Linked DNA regions of Homo sapiens: region 2 is linked to region 1. A link means that fine-mapping ties the variant in region 1 to the expression of a gene that starts in the linked region. Tissue or cell type: whole blood. Region 1 holds a variant in brackets; the other region holds the start of a gene. All regions are shown on one strand. Distances are from middle to middle.

Region 1 (2,756 bases):
AACATTTTAATCAATGACTTGGATGAAATAGGAGACATGCTTAATAAGTCTCAGATGACACGAGGCTGGAGGAATTGCTAATATAACAGATGGCAGAATCAAGATTCAAAATTATTTTGACTGACTTGAACAGTAATAAGGATAAATATAAACTCTTCCGTCTAGGCTCAATAAATCAATTGTGTAAGCAGGGTTTGGAAAGGCCCAGCTTGGCAGTTGTCATAACTACTTAGAACTTGAAGTTGACCATAAACTCATGTTGAGCCTAAAGTTAAGACAATTAATTAGTAACACAGTGAATGCAGTTTTCAAATATTTAAAAACTGCTGTGAAGAAGAGACATTGACTTTGCCTTTACTTCCCCAGTAGAATAAAGAAGTAGAATTTCCCGGGAAGTGGTTTTCAGTTCATTGTATGAAACATTTTTTAATGGTTCCAGTAACAGAACAGACCACCTTTCAAAATGGTGAATGTAATAGCAATCATATCAGAATGTAACAGAAAGGATTCCACTGTGGTGGTCTTCCTTTTAAAGTACAGATTTTAAAAATGAATCTCTTTGACAACTCATGAGTCAAAGTTATACACACACAAGCATCTAGAAGAAAAAATGAGGTGATAAAGTAGCCTTGCTCAGCACCCTCGTTATATCTGCTATAAACGATCAAGAGGGGCCTCATCTAGAAGAAAATGCCCTGAAGCTGGCCTGGGCGCTGACGGGCCCCATCTTCCCTTATTCCATTTGTGAGCCTCCTCCTCAGCTTCCAGTCTTCAGTCCAGCTTCAGCTTGGCCTGTCCTTTTGTCCACTCCTGCCTTCTATCTTGGCTCTCCTTTCTGGCTCACACCTGCCTCCCTCCGTGTGGCAGCTCCAAGTCAGATATTGGGAAGCCATGACTCCTTCCCCATCCCTGCCCTTTGGGCCTGACACCTTCCTGGGCTTCCACAGCTTCCTCGAGCCAGGCCTGGCTTCATGGACTACCCCAGACAGTGAAGGTGCACACACAATTTGTCTTTTTGTTGTGGTTATTGTTCTCAACATTTCATTTCGCTTGCTAACCCGGAGAGCAGGAGAAGCCAAGCAATGACCCTATTTCATCTTATAAGCTTAGAATGTGATATTAGCAAGTCATTAAAAATAAGTTTCACTCCCACAAACACAAAATCAATTGTCCT[A/G]TGGATATCCCATGGGTAACTGGATCCAACTTGTACTCACGTGTTTCTCCTTAAAAACGTCTACCTCTCTCAGAAGCTTCTCTTGGCAGTCAGGGTTGGTGGCCAGTAGGTAGGTGGCAAAAGAAAGTGTGTTGGTGATGATTTCATAGCCAGCGATGAGGAAGATGAAGGCCTGGCCCACAATCTCATCCACAGTCAAAGGCCTGGCCATAGGGCTGGGCTGGTGTTGCCGGGAAGGGTTCGGCTTGCACCCAGTAGAGGAGAAAACGTCTCTGACGATGTCAAAGTCTTGCACGCCCATGGGACTTGCAGAATGTCGGGCATCCAGGACCATTTGGAGGAAGTCTCTCCGCCTCTAAGGAACAAAAGGAGAAAAATGCACATTTTGACCTTACAGTCATGAAGAGTGAGGCTTCCTGGAGAACAAAGGAGGAAGATACATGGGCATAGCTTTTGAAGAGCTCAGTAGCAACAAGCTTCCTCATTGCTGGGTTATCTGGGACGGTGAGAACCTGGAAGCCACCTGAATGTCCCTTAGTATAGCACTGGTCAGGCAGGTTCTGGGGCAGTGAAGAGCAGCCTGGGCTGCTGCCCTGAGCAAGGCAGAGGCCATTCTATCTGGGCTGATGTGAAAGTCATTGAGCCACTTTGTTAAGTAAAAACAAAGCCGGTCATGGAACAGTATGCACTGTGGCTCTCGTTTCTGCAAAAACAGCAAATGTACTAAATATATCATCACCTATATCTGTCTACACATAGACGATTTTAGCAATGTCCCCACCCAACAGTTCATAATGAGCTGGAGGAGGTGGGAAAACCAGGAGGGGGGCTTTTATTTTTTACTTTATACATTTTTGTACTGTTGGTTGGTGGTTGGTTTTCCAACAATAAAACAATGGCAACATCACATAGATAGATTTAAAACCAAGCATGTGCTGTACTGCTCACTTCTGTGCAGCTTAGGGCTTAGATGGGCAGCCACCAGTTTTTCTCACACAGTAGGAAGTTAACAGAAGTGAGGGCAAGGCGAGGGGACTAGTTTGGCGGCGCCTGTCTTCAAAGTCTCCAGGCTTTGCCTTCTTCATCCCCTAGCCTTCATATCAGATCTTCACATCGGTTCCCTCTATTTCTCAGTAATCCCCTGCCCCCGTTTAAGTAGTCAGAGCTTTTTTTCCATTTCCCCCTACCTTCTTTATCAGTCATTTGCATATTCTTTATATTTTCACTATTACTAATTGTAACAATAGGAGTGTTTCTATATCGCCTCTGTGTTAACAAAGCTTATTCCTAGAACATCCCTTCTTTGAAATGCTCTTTAATGTCATGAAGGACAACCAAGACATTTCCATTTTCTGAAGTTTATGGGACTAAAATGGCAAAAGGAGAGTATCAGAATCACCAACAGAAAAATATTAGAATTTCATGCAAAGTACTCTGCTAGCTGCAGCATTTTCTCAGTTCACTGGCTTCTGAATTTCGATTGCATTAATAATCTATGCCACACACATGAGCGTCTGATTTCATCTTTTTTTTTTTTTTTTGCTCTGTCACCCAGGCTGGAGTACAATGGTGTGATCTTGGC
Region 2 (2,628 bases), 130 kb after region 1:
CCACAGTCAGAGCATAGCTATTGATGAGATTAATATGAATAAGCACATTAGTAAGAAATTAAAAATAAACCTAAACCACTAAAGACTTATTTTCTTTTAGGTTACATAGATGATAGATGGTTAATTATAGTGGCTGACATCGACTAAGCACTTTCTGCATGTCAGACACTGTGCTTCGGGCTTCCCGGAGCATAAAAACACATTGAGATGGATTATTGGGGGCTGGGGGTAGGGAAGGAGCTACCATTTGCTCTTGGTTTTACATGTGGCCAGTTTCAATCCAAGGTAAGCTACAATGAGATAAAAAAGTTCAAAAAAAAAATTAAACCAGTTAAAAAGAAAAACAGCACTGGGACTGAGGCTGGGTTTCAGAGCCAATTTCCAAGAAGTAATTTCATCATCATAGAACATCAAACGTGAATTCCACTCTCAGCTATGCAAATTCCAAAAGAATAATACCTCACATTTGCATAATGCTTGATGCTTTTCAAAGTGCTTTCCCAGTTATTAATCTAGAGAAGGCTTTATTACTACTGAAAACATAAATTAAAATTCTGTTCGGACTCCAGTCCTCCATTATTTTTTCCACTCACTTTGCCCTCAAAAGCCAGAGCCATCTAAATCCAGGTGCTTTTGATTGAATGGGTAACTCTAATAAGTTTAACTGACAGGGCGAATATGCATAAATGTAGCATATTATGAGGCCTTCGACCTACAGACACCAGAGTCAGCCTTAGGAAAATTTGCTGTTGAATTAACAAAACCACAGGGGAGCAACTCGGAGTTCAAGTTTGAGATCCTTTCAGGGTCTCAAATTTTGTAGGAGCTGCACACACTATGTTCATCAGAATCCATCTCCCTCTATCAACTATGAGAAATTAGATCTACCACTTTGTCCTTAACCCTACAGAAATCCCCCTCAATGACTTCCTGCAAAGAGGCCCACATTTGCCAAACAGCTCCTACGTCTTGTTTTGTTTTGAATGTAATATGAACCAAGAGGCTGAATTCACTGTAAATCCAACAAGGACAGAGGATTTTAGAAAAATGAGGTGAGGAGATATGACGGGGTTCAAGGAAATGCTTCTACCCAAACCTAATGCCTTTCCAATTTGTTTCTTTTTCCATCTCTTTCAAACTTAATTATGTGTAGCGTTCTCAGTCACTGAATCACCAGCCTTTCCTGACACTTCAATCTCATGCATTTTAGCAAAAGATTAACCTGGCTGTTTGCTTTTAATTCTGAAGCTGTGTTAATACTCACTCCCGCTAGATTAGAAAAGAAGAAAAACACACTCCCACATACCCCGCCATGGCACCAGCAAGGCTCCAGGGTGAGACGGCTGACGCTGTCACAGTCCCTAGGGCTGGCTGCACTTACCATTTCAGGAGGGCCAAGAGAGCCACTGACAGGGCCACCGTCACCATGGGGCCATTCACTTCCAATTTTAGAAACCCCAAGGCTTCCATCATTCCTCTGAGACCCCAGAGTGGTGGTCTTCCAGATGAGACAGGAGGCTGATCTCGCCGCCCTTATGGGAACCGTGCTCTGCAGGTAGAAAAGGGAACAGGCAACCAAGCAAACATCACATGGAGTGGGCCCCCACAATGTGCTCTTTCTCAGAGTGTCTCCCTATAAAGAGGAAGGAAGAGGAGGGCACAACAAAGGGTTTCAGTGTAAAGGAATGAATCAGCAACTTTATTCCTTGATGACTGCACTGTCAATAAACATTTATATTAACTTCCTCAGAGAAGAAAAGCAAACTTCCCCATGTTTGCTGAGAAACAAAATGGTTGTAACCACGGACTTGTACTCTGAGAGGAAGTCTTCAAAGAGAGACTCTTCTCCAAAATGTCTATCTATATCTATCTCTATGTCTATATCTATATCTATATCTACATCCATCTATAATTTTTTAAATTCACAATTAAGTGAAGATACATGTCAAGAGATTCTGAATATCCCAGAAAAATACAGGACCAGACGCCAGCCTGATCAAAATGCTGGCTGCTTTGAGGACAACCATCCCACCAAGTCCATTAGTTGCTGGGTCTGAGGACCTGTCTGAGTGTCTGGCTGTTGGAGCAAAGCAAAGATCCCGATTGGGGTCAGTGTTCTCATGGTGAGTTGGAGGGCTTCTCAAGTGTTTGAAGGCAGATCCGTAGGCTCATATATGGGTCCTTTGTTCTAGCTTTGAGCTTATCTGACTAAAGTGGACAGAGAGATGGAGGGGATCATAGTGGCTGGGTGGCAGGACTAGATTGCAGCTTCAGACAGAGCAGCATCTGGAGGCTTCCATGGTGAATTTTAGCTCCAGATCAACTGCAAGAAAAAACCAGCAATCCCAAAAGGACCCACAGACTCTCTGAAGGAACCAGACTGCTCCTGCAGGACCCAGAAGACACTCCAAATACTGTGAGTGCCCCATTTGCGGAAGTGGGAAAGGGAGACCCTCCTCTCCCAACACAATCCCCCAATATTGAATGGGAGAAATATTCAATGAAATAGCTTAAAGAAAAAATAATTGAAAATTCAGGAAACTTTGGACACACTTTTAGAAATGTGAAATGCTCTGGAAAGTCTCAGCAATAGAATTGAACAAGTAGAAGAAAGAAAATCAGAGCTCA

The links. PIP is the estimated chance that this variant, and not a neighbour inherited with it, causes the effect.
Region 2: TBXAS1 starts here. The variant in region 1 is fine-mapped to the expression of TBXAS1 in whole blood (INTERVAL, PIP 0.97).

The regions. Positions count from the first base shown.
Region 1 is chr7:139,960,692-139,963,447 of GRCh38, reverse strand. It overlaps TBXAS1 (thromboxane A synthase 1), which reads right to left. Exons shown (of 13, transcript NM_001061.7): 9 at 1,215-1,529. Among named protein-coding and RNA genes, the nearest start is that of PARP12, 100 kb to the left of the region's middle. The variant A/G (reference allele first, on the strand shown) is at 1,175.
Region 2 is chr7:139,828,233-139,830,860 of GRCh38, reverse strand. TBXAS1 (thromboxane A synthase 1) reads right to left here and starts at 1,597. Exons shown (of 13, transcript NM_001061.7): 1 at 1,382-1,597. The coding sequence starts at 1,470. RefSeq lists an enhancer at 725-1,924.